Regions from separate parts of the Homo sapiens genome. Here region 2 is linked to region 1. A link means that fine-mapping ties the variant in region 1 to the expression of a gene that starts in the linked region. Tissue or cell type: whole blood. Region 1 holds a variant in brackets; the other region holds the start of a gene. All regions are shown on one strand. Distances are from middle to middle.

The links. PIP is the estimated chance that this variant, and not a neighbour inherited with it, causes the effect.
Region 2: it holds the start of ARL11, and the variant in region 1 is fine-mapped to the expression of ARL11 in whole blood (TOPMed, PIP above 0.99).

The regions. Positions count from the first base shown.
Region 1 is chr13:49,824,799-49,832,904 of GRCh38, forward strand. No RefSeq gene overlaps it. Among named protein-coding and RNA genes, the nearest start is that of KPNA3, 36 kb to the left of the region's middle. The variant T/G (reference allele first, on the strand shown) is at 3,913.
Region 2 is chr13:49,623,870-49,631,975 of GRCh38, forward strand. It overlaps ARL11 (ARF like GTPase 11), which reads left to right and starts at 4,638. Exons shown (of 2, transcript NM_138450.6): 1 at 4,638-4,746; 2 at 6,561-8,106. The coding sequence starts at 6,579. The coding sequence ends at 7,169. RefSeq lists an enhancer at 4,890-4,939.

The DNA.
Region 1 (8,106 bases):
TCCCACAGTGGCAGACAAGTAGCCACCCAAACATTCTTCTTCCGTGTCTCTGCTGCTGGGTGACCTCTCTAGCAGCTCAGGGACTCTGAGGTCTCCCCTTTAGCAATGGGCTTTGCCCCTTCCTTTCCTTATTTGATGCTACAAGATCCCCTTCCCTGCCTCTTCCTGTCTTCCATACCTATTGGAGCAAACGATATTTGGCCAGGTAGACAGGTCCCAATTTTGTAAATAACAGATCCAGCTGTCTTGTATAGGTCACTTCATTTGTGTGATGTGTGTTGTGTCTAGCATGCTATCAAATTGGTTCATAGGCTGGGCACAGTGGCTCAGGCCTGTAATCCCAGCATTTTAGGAGGCTGAGGCAGGTGGATTACCTCAGATCAGGAGTTCGAGACCAGCCTGGCCAACATGGTGAAACCTCACCTCTACTAAAAGCACGGAAATTAGCTGGGTGTGGTGGCGTGCACCTGTAATCCCAGCTACTCTGGAGGCTGAGGCAGGAGAATCACTTGAACCTGGGAGGCAGAGGTTCCAGTGAGCAGAGATCATCCCGTTGCACTCCAGCCTGGGGAACAAGAGTGAAACTCCATCTCGGAAACAAAAATAAGACAAAACAAAACAAAACAAAACCAAAACATTGGCTTATAAATAAAAGAGCACTCATAAATTAAACAAATAGGACTAAATTTGTTAGTTTGAAGGGAATATTGTGACTTCTAAAATTTAACTTTAAGCTTTTTACTTAGATAAAATACTAATTTTCATAGGCTTTAGAATGGTTAAAATGGCTTTAAATGTTGAACTTTTTGTGTAGTTTAAAATCTTAAGATTGGCTGGGCATGGTGGCTAACACCTGTAATCCCAGCACTTTGGGAGGCCAACGCAGGCAGATTGCTTGAGCAGGAGTTTGAGACCAGCCTGAGTAACATGATGAAATCCCATCTCTACAAAAAATACAAAAATTAGCTGGATATGGTGGCATGCACCTGTAATCCCAGATACTTGGGAGGCTGACATGGGAGGATCGCTTGAGCCCAGGAAGTGGAGATTGCAGTGAGCTGAGACTGTACCACTCCACCCCAGCCTGGGTGACAGTGAGACCCTGTCTCAAAATCAATCAATCAATCAATCAATCAATCAATCAATCAATCTTAAAATTATAGAGTGGTTCTCATCTATAGAATGTCAATATCTGATAGTTCAGGATTCTTTGCTTTCTAAATTTATATATAATGTACCAGGGAAGATATATATTCTTTATTGTGAAAAAGAATAACTTGTTCAATTCAGAAATTATTAAAAGGGAGGTTCAAAATATAAAGGAATCTGCGAATAAAAAAGAGAGATATGTGGTGAGTTATGGATAGAAGACTTTTTTTTTTTGGTGGGGTGGAATATATATATTTTTAAATGATCTTGTGTAACGAGAAATCTTGTGTGGTAGATTCTTGTACTAGAATAAAGTCACTGGTGTTTGGGAGGGAGGTGACGTAGGATGGGTCAGAGGGTCCAGACATGTCATGGACGGTCTGTGTGGGCTGTGAGGGGCTCATGAAGGGGAATTTGTGAGGGGAGTTAAGTGTTTGACTAAGCTGGCTATGATTGATGGGAAATTGTTTGTGGTAGACTTTCTAGAAAATGATCTATGTGCCAAGCGCAGTGGCTGACACCTGTAATGCCAGTACTTTGGGAGGCCAAGGTGGGCAGATCACCTGAGGTCAGGAGTTCCAGACCAGCCTGGCCAATATGGTGAAACCCCGTATCTACTAAAAACACAAAAATTAGCTGGGCGTGGTGGTGTGAGCCTGTAATCCCAGCTACTCGGGAGACTGAGGAGGAGAATCGCTTGAACCAGGAAGGCAGAGGTTCGAGCAGTGAGCCAAGATCGTGCCATTGCACTCCAGCCTGTGTGACAAGAGTAAGACTCTGTCTCAAGAAAAGGAAAAGAAAAAAAAAAAAAAAAGCCTATGTGTTGAAACTGGGTTTTCTTTAGGTGTTCATTTGCTAAATTACCAGAACTTTTGCTTTTCCATTCTGTGATATATTTCTTTTGAAAGCTTTTCAAATTTGTGTAACTCTCTCCTTCAGCTTTTTCATCAGCTCCTGTGACTTTTTCTCCTGCAGTTCTGACAGTTGCTGTGATCTGATGCTAAAGTGTTTTCTTAGAGGTCTGCGGGACCAGTGTTTTTCCTGAATACAGCTTAATTCTATGCTCGTGGTTTTCCTTGAATATAACTTTATTTTTGGCTTTTAGTTTTTGACTCTCTTTTTCTTTTCTTTTTTTTTTTTTTTGAGACGGAGTCTCACTTTGTCACCAGGCTGGAGTACAGTGGCTTGATCTCGGCTCACTGCAATCTCTGACTCCCTGGTTCAAGCAATTCTCCTGCCTCAGCCTCCCGAGTAGCTGGGATTACATGCGCATGCCACCACGCCCGGCTAATTTTTGTATTTTTAGTAGAGATGGGGTTTCACCATGTTGATCAGGATGGTCTCAATCTCCTGACCTCGTGATCCACCCGCCTCGGCCTCCCAAAGTGCTGGGATTACAGGAGTGAACCACCACGCCTGGCCAGTTTTTGACTCTTATATTGCTTAAAAGGGCTTTGAGGGCTAATGAATACATGCCCACCTCCACTTCTATCTGGCCTAGAATGTTTAATTGGCTACAAGTCATTGGACTCTAAGTCTGCTGGCCAAAGAGAATCCCTCCCCCTGCCAAAAAAATGGAAAAAGTAACTCAGGCCATGACAGGAAACAGGGAGTCAGCTGCCTCACTATGCCTTTCCCTTGGAATTTAGGCCAGGTTCAAAAGGTCTTTAAAAATTTTGAAAATAAAGTATTGGCCTTTCCCACAGAGAAAAATAAATAGCTCCTCGGTTCAATCAGAAGACTTAGTGTTACTAAAAACTTCAAAAAAAGATCCCCTGATCATCAGTTAAAACCAAAATGGAAGGGCCCCTTCAGGTATTGATAAATACTGTCACTGCTGTTAAGCTTCAGAGAGTCACTAGCTGTGTACACCTGTCCAGGATTAAACCTGTGTCTTATGAGTTCCCCATGGGCATAAAAGGAGCACACCACAACCTACATTTATGAACCTAGAAACTTAAGGCTGTTGTTTTGCAAGCACATAGATAAATAACAGGATGCTGTGGGTGGGGGTAGGAGCATTAATTTTTCTCTTCCTCCTAATTGTAATTTTCTTGTTTAGCCTCCCTCGTAAACTTTGTATCTTCTAGATTCCACATAAAGATGATGCCAGCACAAGGCTTCCAACTCATCCGGTCTTTGGACCTGGAAAAGAAAAACATCCTGCCATTGGGCCTCTTAGGTCAGGTATCCAGAGACTTTTACACTGCCAATACTAGGCGGGGTCTATGCCCATAAAATCAGCAAGAAGTAGTTACAGAAGATGGACCTTCACCCCTCTGCAGCCCCCTTAAGATTAGGAGGCTTTGGCCAGACACAGTGGCTCATGCCTGTAATCCCAGCACTTTGGGAGGCTGAGGCAGGTGGATCAACTGAGGCCAGGAGTTCGAGACCAGCCTGGCCAAGATGGCAAAACCCCATCTCTACTAAAAGTACAAAAATCAGCCGGGTGTAGTGGTGCTCGCCTGTAATCCCAGCTACTTGGGAGGCTGAGGCAGGAGAATTGCTTGAACCCAGGAGGCAGAGGTTGCAGTGAGCCGAGATTGTACCACTGCACTCCAGCCTGGGCAACAAGAGCAAAACTCCATCTCAAAAAAAAAAAAAAAAAAAAAATCAGGAAGTGTATCTAATTTCTAAGGGGGAAGTGAGGTAGGAGACTGATAGGACTTGTTTTCTGGTCACAACCCTGCTGACGAAAATAGGATCTAGTTCAGACAGGATAATGTGAAGAAACTGGCCAAAACCAGCAGATGGCAACAAAAG[T/G]GCTCCCTACCTGCCCTCCTTGCTTATTAGTGTGAGACACTCCCACTAGTGCCATGACAGTTTATAAATACCATGGCAATGACCCAGAAGTTACCATCCCTTTCCAAGAAGTTCTAAATAACCCATCTCATTTTGCATTAACCTTTCCTTAATTTGCATATACTTAAAAGTGGGCATAAGTGAGTATAAATACAGTTTCCAAGTGCCCATATGTTGCTGACTCTGGGTGCACTGCCTATGAATTCGCCCTGCTCTGCAAGAAGCAGTACCATTCAATAAAAGATTGCTGTCTAACACCACCAGCTCATCTTTGAATTTTTTCCTGGGTGAGGTCAATAATTCTCCAAGGCTAAGCCCCAGTCTAGGGGCTGTTTGGTGGATCATTGAGCCCAGCAGTTTGACACCAGCATGGACCACATGGCGAAGCCCCATCTCTACAAAAAAAATACAAAAACTAGCCAAGTGTGGTGGTGCATGCCTGTAGTCCCAGCTACTTGGGAGGCTGAGGCAGGAGGATCACCTGACTACAGGAGGGTCGAAGCTGCAGTGAGCCATGATCGTGCCACTGCACTCCAGCCTGGGCGACGGAGTGAGATGCTGTCTCAAAAAAAAAAAAAAAAAAAAAAGTGGCCGGGCAGGGTGGCTCAAACCTGTAATCCCAGGACTTTGGGAGGCTGAGGCGGGCAGATCACCTGAGGTTAGGGTTCAAGACCAGCCTGGCCAACATGACTAAACCCCATCTCTACTAAAAGTACAAAAATTAGCCGGGCGTGGTAACATGTGCCTGTAATCTCAGCTATTCAGGAGGTTGAGGCAGGAGAATTGCTTGAACCCGGGTGGTGGAGGTTGCAGTGAGCCTATATCGTTTCATTGCACTCCAGCCTGGGCAACAAGAGCGAGACTCCATCTCAAAAACAAACAAAAAAAAAAAAAAAAAAAAAAAAAAAAAAAGGAAAAGAAAAAAATGGATAAGGGAATCCTTGTGCTAAAGGGTGTCAGAGACAATCTGAGAGGTAAATGCTACGCTATGGACTAACAGTAAGGGGAAAAGAAGATGGTAAATTTGCAGAGAAGATCAAGTTTGATCAGTTTCCTGGCCTGAAGGTAGGACAATGACAAAGGCTCATTTTAGGGGCTTCTGGTATACAAAGGTGTAGGGGCACTACAAAAAAGTCATTCTGACACTTGTTGAAATGCTATAAGGAAGACTTTATTTAAGACTATTGCAATAGGAGAGAGAGATCAGGCTCAACTCTGAACACAGCTTGGACAAATGGATACTTATAGTCAAGGAGCAGAGTGACGGGGTTGGTGGGTGAAAAATTACTAGGAGGAGACATCAAGGGTAGAGAGATTCTTGCTAAACTGAACTAGCAGGATTCTCACTGAAGGAAAGCCAAGGACTTAGACATCAAAGGTGGAGGATGAGGAACTTGCTCAGGTATCAGTGGTGATCAGACCACAAAATGGAGGGAATTCTCCCTAAACTGACTTAGCAATATTCTTGTTCATACTGGGCTAGGCAGGCCAAAGACAGGACAGGTGCCAAGGTCTTAGTGGAGTCTAAGTGGAGAAGAAGGCTCAGAGGAGCATGAGTCAGGTTTGGTCAAGGAGAGGGTCTTTGTTGGAGGGGGAAATTAAATGGTGTGGAGGGGAATTTTAGATGGTTCAACAAGGAGGCAATGTAGTGAGTGGCAGCATGGGAGAACTGAGGCTGGAGAAGTTCTCAGCCCATGCTGTTGCCCCTGTTTTGCCCCTTCCCTCCCTCTCTCCCACAGGAGCAGTTGACTGGCTGCCTCTTGCTGTGGTTCCTGTGAAAGGCGGCTTTAGTTTGGATCTTCAGTGGGGTAAGGGGCTCTTGTTCAGAATAGAGGCTTCCAAATATGCATGAACGGAAGTAACACAAGCAAAATGCATGGGACACAGTAGGTGTGCAATGCCTATGGGTCCTCTTCTCTTTCTCCCACTGCTCCCTTTTCAGTGATGGGCCCAGAAAAGCTATAGTTCTATACCCTGTACACATGCTCGTCTCTCACTTTGAGGAAGAACAATTCCCCCAAACACTTTTAAAAAAACAGTAACATCTAGCAATAAATTAACAACTGGCAATGAACTGTTTCCTGCAATTTAAATTGTTTCTGAATGCAGTGTCATTAGGTCCTGGCTGTAGGCTCTTAGGGACTGCACACCTGGAAGGCTGCTGGGCAGAAGTGTCATAACCCATACCCCCAGCTCTTCCTTCTCTCAAGTGTCACAATCGTTTTGAACTATTTGGAATTTCCACCTATTCCCCCAAATTGGCAGCCTCTCCTGACTTTTATAGCTTTTGAATTTTGTACAAAGTGCATGTGTTAACTATTTAAATTTTTATATTTTCAAAAAACGATGATCTCTGTTACAGCAGCTAAAGTGGATTTTCCCCACCCCAGTAACTCACCACATTTCCCTATTTTATCTTCTTAGTAGTACTTGCCAGCATATTGTTTTTATACTGTGCCCAGTCTCCCTCCACTAAACCATAATCTCCTCCAGCCAATACTCTGACTTGTTCTCTATGAAATCTCTAATATCTAGAGTATTTATTTTCCTTCCTTTTCTCTTCTCTTCTTTCTTTTTTTTCTGTTAGTATCTTATTTAGATTTGTAGATTGAGATGCCTTCATACAATGTTTTAGAGATTTTTAGTGGTTTTTTTCCTATAGCCTGAAAGAGTTTACATAACAGAAATTATCTATTCATAAAGCAATGCTACTCAAAATGTGTTCTGCAGGCACTAAAGTATAAATCAAACATACTATTTAGCTCGAATGTACTATTTAGCTGAGTTTTGTTTTTTGTTTTTTAGCAAAGACTTTGTTGATGAAGGAAGCAATATACTGATTTATGTTCCAGTGCAAGCTCCTTAACTTTTTGCGGGCTGGTAGCAAACAGTTCTGTAACCAGCTGAGTAGCACTGCGGTAAAGGGTAACAGAATACAGATACAAAACCACCAGAGACTGGTGCTTTTTCAACTGTTAGATTTAAATTGCCTTTCTAGTCTCTTCCGTGGGCATTGATCTGTTTAGATTTTCTTCCTTTACTTGGCTCAATTTTGCTAAGTTATATTTTACTAGAAAGCTATCAATTTCCTCTATTTTCAGATACATTTCTAGAGTTGCACAGAATAGTTTCTTTTAGTTCTCTTTATCTCTTCCATATCTGTTTTGGATCCTCAGGAGTAAATAGAGGAACATGCAGTAAAAAAAGATTGAGAAAAGATGCAAAAAGATTAGAGTGCAACCAGGAAAGGTCAGTATTATTCTAGTCACTGGAGATGCAAAAATATGCAAATTCTCGAGGGGCTTCATATTTTATCTCTTTTAATTATCCTGAAATAGTTTTATTATTAATTGCTTTTTGAAGAAGTAGATATTGCCTATTAAATTATCTACTTAGAGACTGGTCAGAGTTTCATGTTCTTTTTTTGTTACTTGTTTTGTTTCAAAATTTTTTATTTAATTATTTTTATTTTTATTTTACAGGTGCCCACCACCATGCCCAGCTAATTTTTGTATTTTTAGTAGAGACGGGGTTTCACCATATTGGTCAGACTGGTCTCAAACTCCTGACCACCAGGTGATCCACCCGCCTCAGCCTCCCAAAGTGCTGGGATTACAGGCGTGAGCCACTGCACCCAGCCTTCATTGTTATATGTTCATTATATCACTTATAATGTATTATGTTTATAACATATAATGTTTGTAAGTATTATTGATAGGTTTGGCTGTGTCCTCACCCAAATCTCATCTTGAACTGTAGGTCTCATAATTTCCACATGTCATGGGAGGGAGGGGGACTCAGTGGGAGGTAATTGAATCACGGGGGCGGGTTTTCCCATGCTGTTCTAGTGATAGTGAATAAGTCTCATAAGATCTGACGGTTTTACAAAGGGCAGTTCTCCTACACATGCTCTCTTGCCTGCCACCATGTAAGACGTGCCTTTGCTTCTCCTTCACCTTCCACCATGATTGTGAGGCCTCCCCAGCCATGTAGAACGGTGAGATTAAACCTCCTTTCTTTTATAAATTACCCAGTCTGGGGTATTTCTTCATAGCAGTGTGAGAACCGACTAATACAATTATGTTCTTGATGTTCATTCAAGTATAAAAAGTGCATCCCTTTGGGTTCTCATCCTATTTCTGCCACTGACTGCTA
Region 2 (8,106 bases), 200 kb before region 1:
TCCCACTGATCCTCAACACAGCTCATGGCTGAGAACTTCTGATTGAGAGATTTATACAAGAAATTGCATTCCTCAAAGTAAGTGATTATTGAGGGAAAAAAAAAGGAAAACCATGAAAAAAACCCCAATGCACCCTACTTGCTTATATGTGCGTAGAATATCTCTGGAAAAATGTCTAAGAAACCAATGGTGTGAGCTGTTTCCCAGGGAGGGTCTGGCATGGCTGGAGCACTGCGGTGAAAGGAGAACGTCCTTGATGCTCTACTCTTTTGTACCTTCAGAATTTTGTATGGATGGCTTGAAAATAGAAAGAAATAGAATTTGATTTTTAAAAGAGGCAGTCCCTGGAAAAAAGTTATTAATTTGCATATTGCAAGTTGAGAAAGTGAGAGACCAGAGCAAGAGGAGGTCACAACAAGATAAAAAGGTGGGGGCCGTTATGGAGCCCAGGGAAAGGAGGGCTGGACAAGAGACTCCGTCCATGTTTCTCTAGCACTTTCCAGGAGAATAAAGCTCTTGTTCTAGCACTCTCCTCCTTTGGACCTATCTGTAGAGAGCAGAAAAGTGACCACGAGGCTCTGTTGCATGATAAACAACCCCTTAAAAACCACCAACTTTCCATGGTCTTCCAGCAACCCATTTGGATGTCGTCCCTACAGTTGACTCCTTCAGTCCCTGTGTGTGTCCTCTGCGTGCCCCTGGCCCCCTGCCTTCCCTTAGCTGTGCTGCACAGAAAACCGCCCCAGCTCTTGGGTCAAACAGATCCCATAAGAAACATCAGAAGAAGCATCCTGGCTTACAAGTTATTTTTTGGTGAGTGCAATGGGCGTGCCGTGCTCCTCCAGGCCTGACCACCTGTATGAGAGTTGGCAGGAGGACATTTCTAAACTCACACTCTTAGGGCAGTAGAGATGGGGCCTAAGACCTTTGTCTCTCCTGGTATCAGTGAGCCCCGTGTAGCCCCTTTTCCTTATTCCAGGTCTGGAAGCTGCAGTCACAGACACACAAAGGTGCTGGGGCTTGCACATTCACCAGCGTCACTTTCTCCAGCCACACCACTACGTTTGAGGGCTCTCCTGTCCTTCTCTAACAGAACTAGTCTGGGACTAGACGCCAGGCTTTGGGCTAAGTACTTGATGTGTCTTCACTTATTAAATCCTTCCAATAACCCTTCAAGTTAGGTACCATTATTATCGTCATCAACCTCATTTTATAGAGAAGGAAACTGAGGTGCAGAGAAATTCAGGTTGAGGTTCACAGCAAATAAGCAGTGGAGGCCAAGTGTGCCCCCAGGTGGACCCAAATCAAAGCCACACTGTTACCTTCTGCTCTGCGCTGCCTCCCGGGGCAGTAGCCCTCGTGAGCCTCCCCACGTTGGGGTGTCTAATGAAAAGCTTCCCTGCTGGTTGAGCTGAAGGGGTCAGGGTCGGGGCTGTACAGAGAAACTCAGGCCACAAGGGCCTTTGGGCAGAACTGGGGTCACAAAGTAATCATGGTTTCCCAGCGAACACAAGACTTTGGCCCTCAGGCAAGGCTCCTTGATGTCTGGGGGAGCCTGTGCCCCCCAGCAGTGCTCACAGATCCACCCCTGACTGCCAGCCGGCCCCTTGATGGCGGTGCCTGTCTCAGATTCTGTGGTCAGTGCCACGCAGCTACCTCCAGAGGCAGCCTGCAGCCTGGCCATGTGGCCCCAAGCTCCAGGCTAGAGGCCAAGGGGAGTGTCCCTTCTCTCTCTGTGTCACCCAGGGCATAGGTCACCCAGGCAGCCTGGCATGGTGCCTCCAAGCCACTGTGCTAATGCTTCTACAGCTTCTGCTCCCTCCCTGCCTCCATGGGGCCCAAACCTAGCCCTGGTGCTGCTCTGGGAACTGGGTCAGAGCAGCACCCCAGCTCCCCCACCCCCAGGAGCCCCTCAACCTTGGCCTGCTGTCATCCTCGTCCGGCCCCAATCTTCCTGCAAATCGGGCCCTTGCAGGATTCCTGCTGACTCAGCAGCTGGGCCCGGACAGGACTTAGTCCCAGCGTGAGCCGATCCCGCTGCAGTTTGGGCGAGAATGACAAGCCCTCCACCAGACGATTCTTTATTGCTCTGAGACTTCCCTGGGATAATTCCACCCCCAGGAGCACTCTATCTGTTTCTGTCTCCTCCCCACACACCCCCTGGCCTTGAAAAAGGATGATCACTGACCACAGGCACTGAAAAGAGCAAACCAAGAGCAGCATCAATACCCTCACACAGTGGTGCACATAACACACTTTGAGTTTCTGACTTTTCCTAATCAGTTCTTCCTGCTAAAATACAGTAGCTTAACAAAAACAATGACAACAACAATCTGGTGTTTGCCATTTACAAGGCACTTTCTGTGTGAGTAGCATGACATGGTAAAAGAGAAAGAGATGAATTATAAAACGCAGCAAGATCATGAGTCAATGATTCACCCTGTCCCAGCCTGCTTCTTTTTTTTTTTTTTTGAGACAGAGTCTTGCTCTGTCACCAGGCTGGAGTGCAGTGGCGCGATCTCAGCTCACTGCAACCTCCGCCTTCCGGGTTCAAGCGATTCTCCTGCCTCAGCCACCCGAGTAGCTGGGACTACAAGTGTGCGCCACCATGCCCAGCTAATTTTTGTATTTTTAGTAGAGATGGGGTTTCACCATGTTGGCCAGGATGGTCTCGATTTCTTGACCTTGTGATCTGCCCGCCTCGGCCTTCCAACCGAGCCTGCTTCTTTTCTTGTAAAATGGAAGAGTCATAACATCCAACTTGAGTCTTGATATTTTAATGAAATAATGCATGGGAAAGCAGAAAACAGCACAAAGATTACTGGTTATAAGAGCTAAATCACTGTGACTCCATATCCAAATTCAATACCTACTGAATCAGTGGTTTCTGACTAGTCAATTTTTTTTCTTTTTTTCTTTTTTTTTTTGAGACAGAGTCTCGGCTGGGTGCAGTGGCTCACACCTGTAATCCCAGCTCTTTGGGAGGCCGAGGCGGGCAGATCACTCGAGATTAGAAGCTGGAGACCAGCCTGGCCAACATGGCAAAACCCTGTCTCTACTGAAAATAAAAAAATTATCCAGGCATGGTAGCACGTGCCTGTAATCCCAGGTACTCGGGAGGCTGAGGTGGGAGAATTGCTTGAACCTAGGAGGCGGAGGTTGCAGTGAGCCGAGATTGTGCCATTGCACTCCAGCCTGGGCGCCAGAGCGAGACTCCATCTCAATTAAAAAAAAAAAATAGGAGAGAGACAGAGTCTCACTCTGTCTTCTAGGCTGGAGTGCAGTGCTGTGATCTCAGCTCACTGCAGCCTCCACCTCCTGGGCTCATGCAGTTCTTGGGCCTCAATCTCCCAAGTACCTGGAACTACAGGCACACATCACCATGCCTGGTTAATTTATTATTTTTTGTAGAGACGTGGTTTCACCATATTGGCCAGGCTGGTCTTGAACTCCTGAGCTTGAGCGATCCTCCTGCCTTGGCCTCCCAAAGTGCTGGGATTACAGGCATGAGCCCCCATGCCCGGCGACTAGCCAATTTTTTAAAAATTACATTTTCTAGAGGTGTCATTTTTACTGGGAAAAACACAGTGACACCATTCAAGAAAAAATTGAACGGTAACTTTAATCACTACATTAACACAATTTTAAAGGTTGATCTGCATCATACATACCTTTTAAAGAATGTTTTCATCATATGTAGACAGCTTTTTTTGTTTTTTGTTTTTGTTTTTGTTTTGAGGCAGAGTCTCGCTCTGTCACCAAGGCTGGAGTGCAGTGGTGTGATCTGGGCTCACTGCAACCTCCGCCTCCCGGGTTCATGCCATTCTCCTGCCTCAGCCTCCCAAATAGCTGGGCCTACAGGTAGGTGCCACCACGCCCAGCTAATTTTTGTATTTTTAGTAGAGACGGGGTTTCACCATGTTAGCCAGGCTGGTCTCGAACTCCTGACCTCGTGATCCACCCACCTCAGCCCCCCAAAATGTTGGGATTACAGGCCTGAGCCACCACGCCTGGCCATAGGCAGCTTTTAAAAGAACACATGTGCAGCCTGGCCATCATGGTGAAACCTGTCTTTATGAAAAATACAAAAATCAGCTGGGCATGGTGGCACCTGCCTATAATCCCACTTGCTTAGGAGGTTGAGGAGGGAGGATCGCTTGAGCCCTGGAGGCGGAGGCTGCTGTCCAGCCTGGGCGACAGAGCAAGACTCGGTCTCAAATAGAAAACAAAACAAAACAACAACAACAACAACAACAAACCATGTGTGATTCCAAGCAAATCAGAGAATCTCTAGCCACCAGAAAAACCTTGAGGCATGTACTGAAAGGAAGAGGTCAGAATTCTCTGCGAGGAGCTCAGAGGATCCTGAGGGAAGAGAGAAGGCGGCTGCGCTTGGACACAGCTCCGAGCTCGTGCTCCCTCCTTCAGGCACCCAAGTCTGAGTTGCTAAAAAATGGAGCTGTCACTGGGCCTTGCTCTGCCAGGACCTGCAGAGCCGGGGACCTCTCTGTGGCAAGCCCAGCAAGATGACTGCTCTGAGGCGCCCTAGGGCTGAGGGAGGGGCCGTGACACCAGCCCCGCCCCCCAGCCACCTGGGAAAAGGAAGCACAAAAAGGAGAAGCAGCAACGGCTGCTCTGCTTCCTTCCCATCTCGCTCTTGGGTCATGCCTGGCCAGCAGAAAGCAGCTCCATAGGGGAGGAGAGCCACGCAGGATCTCACAGCTGCAGTCTAATAGTAACACAGAGGTAATTTTAACTTTTTACTTTTCTACCCTTGGGAGTAGGGATGAGTAGAGGCTTACCTCCTTCCAGAGGCAGCTCATATCCCCCCACCCCCATTCCCGGAAGTTGAGATGTCTCTTCTCTGTTCCACGCAGGCATCGTCTAAGTTGGGAACAGGTCTTATGTCTTAAAATTTGGGATTCTTTAAAAACATATGTGGCTGGGCACAGTGGCTCACGCCTGTAATCCCAGCACTTTGGGAGGCCGGGCAGGTGGATAATTTGAGGTCAGGAGTTCAATACCAGCCAGGCCAACATGGTGAAACCTCGTCTCTAATATAAATACAAAAAGTAGCTGGGTGGTAGTAGTAGCTGTAATCCCAGGTACTCGGGAGGCTGAGGCAGGAGAATCCCTTGAACCTAGGAGGCGGAGGTTGCAGGGAGGCAGAGGTTGTGATGAGCCAAGATTGCACCACTGCACTCCAGTCTGGGTGACACAGTGAGACCCTGTCTCAAAACAACAACAAAAATGTGTGATGGCACATGCCCATAGTCCCAGCTACTGGGGAGGCTGAGGTGGGAGGATGGCTTGAGCCTGGGAAGTCGAGGCTGCAGTGAGCTGTGATCATGCCACTGCAGTCCAGCCTGGGCGACAGAGTGAGACCCTGTCTCAAAACAAAACAAAACAAAACAAAACAAAAAAACCCAAAAACAAACAAAAAAGCACATGTGGAGTGTTGTAGAAGTCATTGACCTTGGTAAGACAGTGGAGGAAACTGCTTTGCTCTGACTCATAAATTTGCCCCCAGTAAACAGTATTTATAAATAGCCCCAGTCAGGCACTGCATGAAGACATTTCAGTCAACGACAGACCACATATACAACGGTGGTCCCATAAGATTATAACAGAGCTGAAAAATTCCTATTTTTCAGCTTAGTGTTGTGGTGCAACCACTACCTTTTCTATGTTTAGATACACGAATACTTAGCACTGTGTTACAATAGCCTACAGTACCCATTACAGGAATGCTGTACCGGTGTGTAGCCCAGGAGCAATGGGCCATACCATATAGCCTAGGTGTGGAGTAGACTAGACCATCCACGTTTGTGTAATTACAATCTATGATTTTGTAAAATGATGAAATTGCCTAATGAAGCATTTCTCAGAATGTGTCCCCGTCATTAAGTGACACCTCACTGTGTTTCCAAGACATAGTACTGGTCCTTGGGAAGCTCTAAAGAGAGGTCACCGTGAGCTGAACCATCCTTCTCACTCTGTGCATGGAACCCAGCTTAGCTTCCATTTCAGCATTTAGGCTTATAGGAGGAGAAGAGGTTAGAAGCCACAGACCAGCAAGAATTGAAGACATCGTTCTGTAATTTCTACTGAACCAGCTCTGTCTGACTGGAACTTCATTTTGCCTCTTTGCTTTAACTCCTCAGGAATGTCTTCCAGGAGGCCCCTGATCTTCTCTGCTCAGGGACCACTCTTATCTGACCCAGAGACAGGTTAGCTGATGGTGACTCACACATCCTCACTTCCTTCAAAGCCCAGGCATCTGTTTAAAATCTGACCCTGTGAAGACTTTTCCTGTTTTGGAAAAACTCTTCCGTTGTTTGCCTGCACAGATTTGTGCTCCATTTTTAATTTCAATTTTTGTAGAGAAGGCGGGTCCTTGCTTTGTTGCCTCGGCTTGTTTGAAACTCCTGGGCTCAAGTGATCCTCCTGCCTTGGCCTCCCACAGTGCTGGGATTACAGGTGTGAGCCACTGCACCAGGATGGATTTGTCTTCCTTCAGAAGACAGTAGCTGATGTGTGCCCTGGCCTTTCTCCCCTAGGATTCAGCAGTGGCCACCATGGGTTCTGTGAATTCCAGAGGTCACAAGGCGGAAGCCCAGGTGGTGATGATGGGCCTGGACTCGGCGGGCAAGACCACGCTCCTTTACAAGCTGAAGGGCCACCAGCTGGTGGAGACCCTGCCCACTGTTGGTTTCAACGTGGAGCCTCTGAAAGCTCCTGGGCACGTGTCACTGACTCTCTGGGACGTTGGGGGGCAGGCCCCGCTCAGAGCCAGCTGGAAGGACTATCTGGAAGGCACAGATATCCTCGTGTACGTGCTGGACAGCACAGATGAAGCCCGCTTACCCGAGTCGGCGGCTGAGCTCACAGAAGTCCTGAACGACCCCAACATGGCTGGCGTCCCCTTCTTGGTGCTGGCCAACAAGCAGGAGGCACCTGATGCACTTCCGCTGCTTAAGATCAGAAACAGGCTGAGTCTAGAGAGATTCCAGGACCACTGCTGGGAGCTCCGGGGCTGCAGTGCCCTCACTGGGGAGGGGCTGCCCGAGGCCCTGCAGAGCCTGTGGAGCCTCCTGAAATCTCGCAGCTGCATGTGTCTGCAGGCGAGAGCCCATGGGGCTGAGCGCGGAGACAGCAAGAGATCTTGATCCAGACAGAGCAGCATATCTTTGCTCATACAAACTAGAAGAACCAGCTGATCCTTGAGAAATTTACGCTTAGTCTATCAAACAAGAAATGCTGGCTTGGCCCGGTGGCTCATGCCTGTAATCCCAGCACTGTGGGAGACCACGGTGGGGGAATCCCTTGAGCCCAGGAGTTGGAGAGCAACATCACAACACCCCATTTCTACTAATAATCAAAAAATTGGCCGGGCATGGTGGCATGTGCCTGTAGTCCCAGCTACTTGGGAGGCTGAGGCAGGAGAATCGCTTGAGCCCAAGAGGTAGAGGTTGCAGTGAGCCAAGATCGCGCCACTGCACTCCAGTCTGGGCAACAGAGTGAGACCCTGTCTCAATAATAATAATAATAATAATGATGATACTCTAAGAAAAAAATCTCAACATACTTCATTTAATAGCTCGTTACCAAGTGTGAATGAAGCAATATGTCATAATAGAGTAGCCACTGGTTGCATAATAATAGAGACCTAAATTCTCAAATAGGGAAAGAGGTTTTAAAATCAAATTTGAGGCCAGGTGCAGTGGCTCATGGGCGGAGGAGGGCAGATTACTTGAGGCTAGGAGTTCAAGACCAGCCTGGCCAACATGGTGAAACCCCATCTCTACTGAAAATACAAAAATTAGGCATAGTGGTGCACGCCTGCAGTCCCAGCTACTCAGGAGGTTGAGGCAGAAGAATCGCTTGAACCCAGGAAGTGGAGGTTGCAGTGAGCCGAGATTGTGCTGCTGCACTCCAGCCTGGGTGAAAAAGACAGGCTGTGTCTCCAAAAAGAAAAAAAAAAGTCAAATTCAAATATCATCTGGACATGTCACAATGGATCGCGGATCCTTATGAGTGATTTTCCCCAGTGGCCCCTGGGGATGTGCCACTGTCACTCAGAAGGGCAAGCTAGGCAGGGCCCAT